2 separate regions of the Homo sapiens genome follow, and region 1 is linked to region 2. Evidence: fine-mapped expression QTL. A gene starts in region 2. The other region holds a variant in brackets. All regions are shown on one strand. Distances are between the middles of the regions. Region 1 has its middle 15 kb from the start of B4GALNT4. Region 2 holds the start of PGGHG (protein-glucosylgalactosylhydroxylysine glucosidase).

What was found. PIP is the estimated chance that this variant, and not a neighbour inherited with it, causes the effect.
Region 1: its variant is the best candidate, but not a certain one, in a credible set for the expression of PGGHG in fibroblasts (GTEx, PIP 0.55).

Annotation. Positions count from the first base shown.
Region 1 is chr11:351,425-356,928 of GRCh38, reverse strand. No RefSeq gene overlaps it. Among named protein-coding and RNA genes, the nearest start is that of B4GALNT4, 15 kb to the left of the region's middle. RefSeq lists silencers at 485-804, 3,273-3,439 and enhancers at 100-1,052, 2,239-2,528, 2,034-2,610, 3,840-3,889. The variant G/C (reference allele first, on the strand shown) is at 2,173.
Region 2 is chr11:287,142-292,141 of GRCh38, reverse strand. It overlaps PGGHG (protein-glucosylgalactosylhydroxylysine glucosidase), which reads right to left and starts at 3,016. Exons shown (of 14, transcript NM_025092.5): 1 at 2,903-3,016; 2 at 2,067-2,338; 3 at 1,542-1,752; 4 at 1,029-1,464; 5 at 47-166. The coding sequence starts at 2,325. RefSeq lists silencers at 2,827-2,886, 2,897-3,426 and enhancers at 3,310-3,839, 3,840-4,369.

The sequences.
Region 1 (5,504 bases), 65 kb before region 2:
GTATGTATGTGCACTGTGCCTGTGTATGTGTGTGTGACATATGTATGTATGTGGTGGCTGTATATGTGTGTGCATGGTGCGTGTGTGTGTGGTGTGTATGTGCATGGTGCATGTGTATATGTGTGGGGTGTGTCCGTGCATGATGCATGTATGTGCGTGGTGTGTATATGTGTGTGCATGGTGCATGCGTGTGTATGTATGTTTGTGGTGTGTATGTGTGTGCATGGTGCATGTGTTTGTGGTGTGTGTGCATGTTGCATGTGTGTATGTGTGTCACGTGTGTATGTGGTTTGTGTATATTTGTGTGCACGGTGCTTGTGTGGTGTGTGTGTATGTCCATGGTGTGTGTGTGATGTGTGTATGTGTGTGGTGTGTGTATGTATGTGCATGGTATGTGTGTGACATGTATATATGTGGTGTGTGTATATGTGTGTGCATGGTACGTGTGTGTGGGGTGTGTATGTGCATGGTGTGTGTGCCCCGCCCCCCAGGCGCTTTCTCCGTTTCCCCGAAGTGACGACCGCACCTCGGCCGGAAGCGGGGAGGGGCCGCCTCGTGGGAGCGCGGACGGGCAGAGCCCTTTGTGTTCGGGACGGGGCGGGACGCGCTGGGTGCGGGGAGACCCCCTGCGCCCCGGCCCTGCTGTGGAGGAAGGGGCTCTAGACGGGGCGGGGCGCTCCTCCGCGTGCTGCGTGTCTGGGGGCCCGAAACGCAGACCCGCCCCCCCACCGTTGGAACGAGCCCCCCCACCGTTGGAACGCGCCGCCCCCCCCTTCCCCCGCTCCAGGCGGCTCCCTGGAGAGCAGCTGGGAAACGCCCCACCCCCATCCATTCCTGGCCGCGCTTTCAGGGCTGTTTTCCTCGGGCTGGGAAACGCCCCGCCCCGTTCCATTCCCGGCCGTCGGTTCGGGAATGTTTTCCTGGCGCACAGCCCTGGGAGGCCTCCCGGGCGCCGAGGGCAGCGCTGGTCACCGTCCCGCGTGGCAGCCAGTGTCTGGGGGCAGAGTGTCCAGGAAGCTGCGCCCCCGGGCTCGTGTCCTGCCGCCACTCACTGCGTGGCACGGGTCCCCGGGCCCCTCCAGGCCTTCTGCGGGAGCTGGGGCTTGGGAAGCCGCCGCAGAAGCGGTTCCCTTGGCCACCTCCCTGCCTGAGAAGTCAACCGTCCTTGCCTCTGACCCAGGGGCTCTGTCTTCTGTTGGCCTCCGGGGATCTGTGGCCGGTTCACCCCCTAGCTGGCGAAGCTAGGCGTTTGAACCAGAGCAATTCCATCTTGATTGGGAGCTGGGTAAAATGAGGCTGAAATCCACTGGGCAGCATTTCCAGACGGTGGGAGCTCAGACCCTGCCCGTTTGTGCACAGGAAGCACCCACCGGGCTCCTGAAGTCCACGCGAGCTCCCTTCCCTGAGCTCCAGGCCAAGCTTGGAGTTCCCTCCGCCCCTTAGACCTCAGGCCGACTCGGCTTCCAGAATGCCATCCTCCCTGGACTGCAGTTAAATTAACTTCCTGTGTTCTGAGCCATCTGTTCCCTTCCTACCCTGTTTTCCACCCCAAATTGTTCTTAACCCCATTATTCAGGGCATGTGATAGTGTGGGCGGAGGATTACCCAGGTGCGGAGGCAAAAGACTGAAGGCACATGGCGGGCGCCTGTAGTCCCAGCTACTCGGGAAGCTGAGGCAGGAGAATGGGGTGAACCTGGGAGGCGGAGCTTGCAGTGAGCCCGGATGCGCCACTGCACTCCAGCCTGGGCGACAGAGCGAGACTCTGTCTCAAAAAAAAAAAAAAAAAAAAAAAAAAAAAAAAAGACAAGGCACAAACTTTCAGTATAATAAAGAGAATAAGAATAGTTATAATACAAATTAGAGATGATCATGGACATATCAATCATTAGTATAAACATTATTAATCATTAGCTTTTATCGTGGACATTATCAATCAGTATAAACATTATTAGTCATTAGCTTTTAATATTTCTCTTTGTGGCATTACTAATATAACCTAGGAATAACCGGCGGGTATAGGGTCAGGTGCTGAAGGGACGTTGTGAGAAGTGACCTAGAAGGCAAGAGGTGAGCCCTCTGTCACACCAACATAAGGGCCGCTTGAGGGCTCCTTGGTTAAGCGGTAACGCCAGTGCCTGGGAAGGCACCCGTTACTTAGCCGACCGTGAAAG[G/C]GAGTCTTCTTTCCTTGGAGGAGTCAGGGAACACTCTGCTCCACCAGCTTCTTGTGGGAGGCTGGATATTCTCCAGGCCTGGCCCGCAGTCATCCGGAGGCCTAACCCCCTCCCTGTGGTGCTTGAATGATCACACTCCTTGTCCACTTTCATGCTCCTCCCTTACTCCTGGTTCCTCTTTGAAGTTCTTAGAAGATAGCGGTAGAAGAAATAAAGTCTTTGATCTTTCTTTCTTTCTTTTTTTTTTTCTTTTTTTTTGAGACAGAGTCTTGCTCTGTCGCCCAGGCTGGAGTGCAGTGGTGCGATCTCGGCTCACTGCAAGCTCCGCCTCCTGGGTTCACACCATTCTCCTGCCTCAGCCTCCCAAATAGCTGGGACTACAGGCGCCTGCCACCATGCGTGGCTAATTTTTTGTATTTTTAGTAGAGACAGGGTTTCACCATGTTGGCCAGGCTGGTCTTGGCCACGTGACCTCAACTGATCTGCCTGCCTCGGCTTCCCAAAGTGCTGGGATTACAGGCGTGAGCCACTGCGCCCGGCCGTCTTTGATCTTTCTTAAAAGTGCATAGAAGAAAACGCTGACGTATGCTGCCTTCCCTCTCTGCTCCCGCTACCTGTAAGGGAAGGGCCCCTGTCCTATGGTCACATGACTTGCTTGACCTTATCAATCACTTGGACAACTCACCGTTCTTACCCTGCCCCCTTGTCTTGTATGCAATCAATATCAGCGTGCCCAGCCATTCGGGGCCACTACCGGTCTCCGCATCTTGGTGGTAGTGGTTCCCCGGGCACAGCTGTTTTCTCTCTATCTCTTTGTCTTGTGTATTTATTTCTTCCGGTCTCTCGTCTCCACACACGGGGAGAACACCCGCCAAGCCCCGTAGGGCTGGACCCTCCATGATAGAAGTCATGCTTTTAATCAAATGCAACCAATTCAGAATGGCAAATTAGGATATATACCCTTTCCCAAATCCAGTATCCCAGGAGAAATTACGGTACGGTAATTAATCCCCCTCCTCCCGCCAAGCTAAACCTCAGAGAAGTTGAAGTTCTAAAGTTCAAGTCCAAAAATACTGGGAAGGGAAAAACAAACAAAAAAACCGAGGAAACAAACATCAGGGAAAAACCCAGAACCTCGTCATGAAAATAGTGTCCTGTCGCTCTGTTTCTGATTTGCAGCTCACAGCTCGTGTTTCACCCCAGCCTCTGGGGCCGGCTCTGTGCCTGGCCTGAGGCCGATTCACTGGCTCAGTCCACAGAGTTGGGCCTGGCTTCCTGCCCTGGAAACCAGTCGAAGGTTCTCCATAGGAACCTGCCGGGCAGACACAGGGATTTGCTGGTTCTCCAGCAGTGAGTCTGAGATGAAACTGGTGTCTATTCGCAGTCTGATACTTTGCTTTAACAAAAAAACAAAAAGCCAGAAAAACAAAAACAAAACTGGGCTTTGATTTGTTTAGAAAGAGATCTTTCTGAGCGTCTTCTGCTCTCATGGCCTGGGTGCCGCCCACCAATAGCAGCTCGGGCTGGGCCTTCGTTTCCCAGCTGGGGGGACCTTTCAGCCCCTCTAGAGGTAAAGTAACACACCCAAAGTCTCTCTTCTTTAAAAAGGGCTCAGAGTCACTGGGTGAATATGAATTTCATATCATTACCTGTTGAGGTTGCCCAGGTTCTTGGTTTCTTGAACAAAGAACTGGACAAAACCCACAAAGGAAGGAAGGAATGAAGAGATTTACTGAAAAGGAAAGTACACGCCACAGCGTGGGAGCGGCCGGAGCATGGGGCTCAAGGGCCCCATTACAGAATTTTGGGGAGTTTAAATACCTTCTAGAGGATTCCGTTGGTTACTTGGTGTACGCCCTCTGTAAATGGAGAGGATGAAGTAAAGTTACAAAGTCATTTACTGGGTGCAGGCCCTATGGAGAGGATATTTCCTGTCATAGCTGAGGTGTGAATCGGTCTTATGTTCCCTGTCTCCAGGCCTTGTTTTCCTGCCTCACTAGCACCAGGCACACAGTCACACAAGGTGGAAAATGGACTCCGTGTGCCTCCAAGGTGAACACCCTGGCTCTCAGGAGCAGAGACCTAGTGGCATCCCAGGGAGAGTGGAGAGACAGGGAGAGAAATGTTCTGGCTGGTCCAGAGGGCGAAACAGCAGAGACTGTTCTGTCAGAGGCATGTGAACCAGAGCAACTCCATCTTGATTAGGAGCTGGGTAAGATGAGGCTGAGACTTGCTGGGCTGCATCCCCGGACGGTTAAGGCATTCTAAGTCACAGGATGACATAGGAGGTCGGCAATAGCTACAGGTCATAAAGACCTTGCTGATAAAACAGTTTGGAGTAAAGAAGCCGGACAAAGCCCTCCAAAACCAAGATGGTGTCGAGAGTGACCTCTGGTCGTCCTCAGCGCTACACTCCCACCAAGGTCCTGACAGTTTACAGATCCATGGCAAGGTCAGGAAGTTTCTCTACATGGTCTAAAAGGGGAGGCATGAATTATCCACCCCTCGTTTAGCATATCATCAAGAAATAACCGTAAAAATGGGCAGCCCGCAGCTCTCGGGGCCGCTCTGTCTATGGAGTAGCCATTCTTGATTCCTTTACTTTCCTAATAAACTAACTTGCTTTCTTTTTTTTTTTTTTGAGACGGAGTCTCGCTGTCGCCCAGGCTGGAGTGCAGTGTCGCGATCTCGGCTCACTGCAGGCTCCGCCCCCCGGGGTTCATGCCATTCTCCTGCCTCAGCCTCCCGCGTAGCTGGGACTACAGGCGCCCGCCACCACGCCCAGCTAATTTTTTTTTTTTTGTATTTTTAGTAGAGACGGGGTTTCACCGTGTTAGCCAGGATGGTCTCGATCTCCTGACCTCGTGATCCGCCCGCCTTGGCCTCCCAAAGTGGTGGGATTACAGGCGTGAGCCACTGCGCCCGGCCAACTTGCTTTCACTTTATGGACTCCCCCTGATTTCTTTCTTGCATGAGATCCAGGAACCCTCTCTCGGGGTCTGGATCGGGACCCCTTTCCGGTAACATCTTTCTGGCGACCACAGAAGAAAAACTGCAGACTCAAAACCTAGCGTTGGGTAGGTGACATATCTCTGGTGACCTCAGGAGGGGCTCCAGTGCGGAAACCCCCGACCTAAAGGCTAACTTTGGGTAAGTAGTGGGGTCCGGTAACATCTTTCTGGCAAACCCTGAAGGGACAATACTGAGGAGGAGCCCCCGACCCAAAGGAAATAGACTCGGCCCTGACTGGACGACGCTGGGTAAGTGGTGGGGTAGCCGGCGAAGGATGGGATTGGGTGAGAGGCCCACTTAGGGGAGTTAGGGTCTGTCCT
Region 2 (5,000 bases):
GCAGGCCCTGCAGGGCCCTACGGGCCAGTGCCCCAGGTCCCCTCACCTGGTAGCCCAGGTTCTGGGCGTTCTCCAGGGCCCCGTCCAGCGTGCGGATGCGGTACTCCAGGATGGCCCTGGCGGCTTCTGGGTGGAACATCAGGATACTCGGGAACATCCAGAGGTCCTGAGAGCACGGTCCCTCGTTCTAGCGCCGGACAGGCCGTCACTGCTCCCGCCCCTCCTGGCCACATTCCGCCCCGGCAGAGCTCCATCGCTGGCGTCTTCTGGGTTCCTCCTCGGCTGCCCACTCAGATCTGCAGGCCCTCCCCACCTGCCCACCCAGTTCTGTCTCCAGCCCAGACGCTCCTGGAGTTCTGGTGCTCAGCCCCACACTTCGCCTCCCCAGCCGGCGTTTGTGTGGCCTCAGAGGCTCCAGCCCGAATATGCGCATGGGCAGCTTCAGGCTGGCAGTGAATGACTCGGCCTCTGAGAGCCTCATCAAAGAAACGGCCACAGCGGCAGCACCGGGAGGCTCAGACAACGATGGAGCAGCCCCAGCACAGTCACTCTCGACACCTCCACGCCCAGCAGCCATCATGCCCCTCCGCTCTGTGCCCTCAGCGTCCCCGTCACCCCCGTCGGCCTCCAGTACCGGGCTCCACGCAGCCCCACAGGCCTTCCCAGTCCCCACAGGTCCCCGTCCTGATAGGTCCCTGGAGCTCCACTGGCCCTCAGGTAAACTCCAAGCGCCACACTACTGTCTACAAACGCTGGTGATCTGGACCTGCAGCCCTTCTCGCCTTGGTGGAGGCCCCTCCCCACGCTCTGGAAAGTGCCTCAGGCCCTCTCAGCTCTGGTCTCTGCACCTTCCATTCCCCTCACCTAGATCACTCCTCTACCAAACTCCTGCACACCTTCCAGGCCTCTTCCCTTTTGCCACAGTCCCTGTGCTTCCCCAACCATAGCCCTGGTCCCAGGGAGGGCAGAGACCGTGGACCTCCATGTGTCGCCTGCTGTGTGGCTGGTGCTGGGTGTACAGTGCTCACCTGGTCCCAGAAGACGTGGCCCCAGTAGCATTCCTCACGGCTCCCATTGGAGAGGCCCCCAGGACTGAGGCCATGGCAGATGTATCCTGGGGCCTTGGGCTGGGGCAGGGCACTGAGCAGGTAGTAGAGGGAGCCACGCAGGGCCTGGCGCAGCTGCAGGGGCCCCACCACGTCCAAGCCACATTCTACCCAGAGCTGGGCCCAGGCCTGTGCGTGAGCCGTATACAGAGCTCCCCTGGCCTGCAGCTGCAGGGCCTCAGTGAGGCAGGCCTGAGCCTCAGCCTGGCTGCCGCCCACTGCTGTCAGGAAGTCCCACGTCCTAGCCTCCTCACCTTCCCCAAGGGTCAGGTCTGGGGGTGCTGGTGTCCACAGCATGTGTACCTCTTGCTGTGGCCCCCCGGGCTGCTCAGGGGTGAGGGTGTGGCCATACAGGTACCTGTGAGAGCGTGGCCATGCCTCAGGGATGAGCTCCCTCCCTGGACTCCCTGGCTGCAAATCCAGCCCCCTCCTTACCGGGCTCCCTGGAAGTCAGGACCCTGATGCAGGTCCAGGTCTGGGCTTTCTGGGGAGAAGGCTGACCGCAGGAGCAGCGTGATGGGCCCGCTCCCCGGGGCCAGGCGGGCGATGGACACTCGGAAAGCCAGCACGTGGGGCAGCGTGCGATGCGCATAGATGCACTGGGAGGCCCGGAAGCGGGGGCCCTCCAGGGTGTGAAGAAAGGAGCCTGGGGAGGCAGAAGCGAAGGCAGGTGGGTTGCCAAGCTATGGCCTCTCTGGGGCAGGAGTGGACCACCCGACCGCTGCCTCTCCCCACAATGAGGCGGATCCCTCTGGGCCCTCGGCTGCTCGTTCCCGCTACAGCTGCACAGGAGGCCTCCAGGTGGAGGGAAGGGGGGACCCTGCGGGCCTCTGGGGCCTCCTGTCTTAGTGAGACTTCCTGTGTAAACTCAGGAGGTGCTGGTGGGATTCGATGCTGTGGTTGCCCCACCGACCTGGAACAATGCCTGGGGCAGGGGTGAGGCAGGCCAGGTGGCGCTACCTGTGTTGGTGTCCAGGGCGAAGGTCTCGGTCAGCTGCTCCCCCATCCCTGCAGGGGCCTCCAGCCGGACGTTGAGGGGGCTGGGCAGCATGGCCCGGTGCGTGTCCCCGCCAGCCCCATTGTACACGCCGCTCACGTGCAGCGTGTCGTGAAACACTCGTGTGCCCAGGTATGCGTTGGTCACAGTGGCCAAGAGACGGGGGTCACTGGGCAGAGAGTGGGCAGCAAACGTGGTGGGGTCCTCGCCGGCGTCCTCCATGGAGCTGCTGGGCCTGAGCGGCCTGATGGGGTGTCAGGGGCCGCGGGACTGGCTGGGCCTCCCTCTTGAGACCGTCTGTAATCCCCTGAAGCCTCCCTCAGAACTGGGGGGAGTTGCGGAACCAGCTGGGCAGCCCCGATTTTCCTGAGGCCCCTCCTAGACGGGGCCTCGCAGGAAAGGAGCTCGACTCTCAGAGGGGCTCAGACCCCAAAGGTTGATCTCCAGGAACCCAGCTGAGCCCCTGAGTGTGTCTCTCCCTCCTGCTACCTTAGAATTCCAGTCCTAACCCTGCTTTCCAAACGCACCCCCCACAACCCCGGTCTTGCCCCCACCCTCTGTGGTCGGGACCTGCGTCTGTTGGTGGCACGTGGGGGCGGGCGTGTGTGGAGGGTGGGGGGAGCGCTGGGCGGGATGGGGGAGGGAGTCCGGGGCTGCCGGGGCGCCGGGCGGGTGGGGGTCTCGGGGGTGTAGGCGGCTGGGGCAGGCGCGGGTGGGGGAGGGAGGATGGGGCGACCGGGGGCTGGGGGGACGGGCCGGGGCGGCCGGGAGCTGCGGGGCGGGGGCCTCTGGGACTCACCGCAGCCCCACCCGGTCGCCGGGCGCCAGCGTGGGAACCTGTGTCCCTCTGCTCCACGCCAGGGCCGGGAGGAAGGAGGAGCCGCCCGGCTGCCGCGCCACCAGGAAGGTCCGCGGTCCCCGCCCCGAGGGCCCGGGCGGTCGCTGGGAGGCGGGGGCGGTCCCTGGGCGGCGGGGGCGGTCGCTGGGCCGGGCCCGGGGGCGGGACGTGGACTCGCGGCCGCGGCCCCGGCTCCCCTCGGTCCCCGCTGGCAGCGGCCGCGTGGGTCGCGTCCGGGGGCCTGGCGTTCCCTGCACGAAGCGCCCTGAGTGAGCAAAGCTCGAGCCTGGACCCCGAGCTGCGTCCCGGGGCGGCTGTGGGTGGGGCCCGCGGGCCGGGGGTTCCCTCCCGCGCCTCCTCCCTCCGCCCGCGCCCCCGGCCGCCTCCACCTGGGTCCTCGCCTCGCTGTCGCCCGAGGGCTCGGGGGCGCTCCGAGGCCAGCGAGACTCCAGCCCCAGCCGGCGCCCGGGTTCTCGACACCGTCCGGAGAAAGAACTCGGGGTCGGGTCAGAAGGAAGCGAGAGGCTGGAAGCGAAGCGAAGGCACAGACCCGCCGCGCTCGGCGGAGCTTGGGTTTCCTCCCTGGGGGGCGGAATGATCTTTAGGGATTCTGGAAACGAAGGGGACTTCAGGGAACCCCGGCCCCCGCCGCGCCTGCCCCTTCTCCCTTATTGGGCGTTTTGCCGGGAAGGCTCATGGACGTCTCACTCGCACGGGTGTTTGGCCGTTTTCTCGCTCTCGTTTTGGGTTTTCTGTTAAACTGCGGTCCCTTTGCCTCGGTCCTGGTGCAGCTGCTGCTTGGGTTTTCCATCCTCCTGAGACCACCGGTGCAATTCCCAATTCCCATCTCAACGCCACCGCCCACCCGGACGCCGCTGGGCTCAGCCCTGGGCCCGCTCGTCCCGGTATCTCACGCTCCCTGACCCGGCCTCAATGTCCTGACCACTCGGTGCAGCCGGAGACGCCGGGGTCCAGCACGTGCTCGGAAGCCTGCTGCTCCCACAGGGTCCCCAGCACAGGTGAGGACGACTCCGCCCGTCCCGCTGCCCAGGCCGTGAGCCCCGGTTTCTCTCTGTCACCCACACAGCATCCAACCTATGGACAGGTCCTGTGGCTCCACCTCCAACACGCCGTGGGCCCACACCTCCTCCTGGAGTGGCTCAGTCGCTCCCAACTTACGCCTTTGTTGAGAACAGAACCCCCACAACATTTAAGGCAGGCCCTGCACTCTGCCCAGAAGGCAGCCATGGCGCCCAACTCACGGAGGACGATCCAAAAGCGCTCCTCACGCAAGCTCCACCCGGCGCAAACCCCCTCCTGCAACTGCCTGGGTTCCCTGACCTCATCTCCTCCCCCTCCCCTACTCCGCTGCGGCTACCTGGCTTCCTTGCTGCTTCTGGAACTTTCCAAGCACGCAAGCTCCACCCGCAAACCCCCTCCTGCACCTGCCTTGGTTCCCTGACCTCATCTCCTCCCCGTCCCCTACTCCGCTGCGGCTACCTGGCTTCCTTGCTGCTTCTGGAACTTTCCAAGCACGCAAGCTCCACCCGCAAACCCCCTCCTGCACCTTCCTGGGTTCCCTGACCTCATCTCCTCCCCCTCCCCTACTCCGCTGCGGCTACCTGGCTTCCTTGCTGCTTCTGGAACTTTCCAAGCACGCAAGCTCCACCCGCAAACCCCCTCCTGCACCTGCCTGGGTTCCCTGACCTCATCTCCTCCCCATCCCCTACTCCGCTGCGGCTACCTGGCTTCCTTGCTGCTTCTGGAGCTTTCCAAGCACGCAAGCTCCACCCGCAAACCCCTTCCTGCACCTGCCTGGGTTCCCTGACCTCATCTCCTCCCCCTCCCCTACTCCGCTGTCGCTACCTGGCTTCCTTGCTGCTTCTGGAGCTTTCCAAGCTCCCCGCCTGGCTTGCTCTGGCAGCATAATTGCCTGAAGCCCTTTTTCTCAAGACCTCTTTGGGGCTTGCCCCCTCACTCCTTCGGGTTTTCAAATGCCCAGTCGTCAGTTAGACTTCCTCAGACCCCCGTTTCATGCAACAGGAAACCCTGCGCTCCA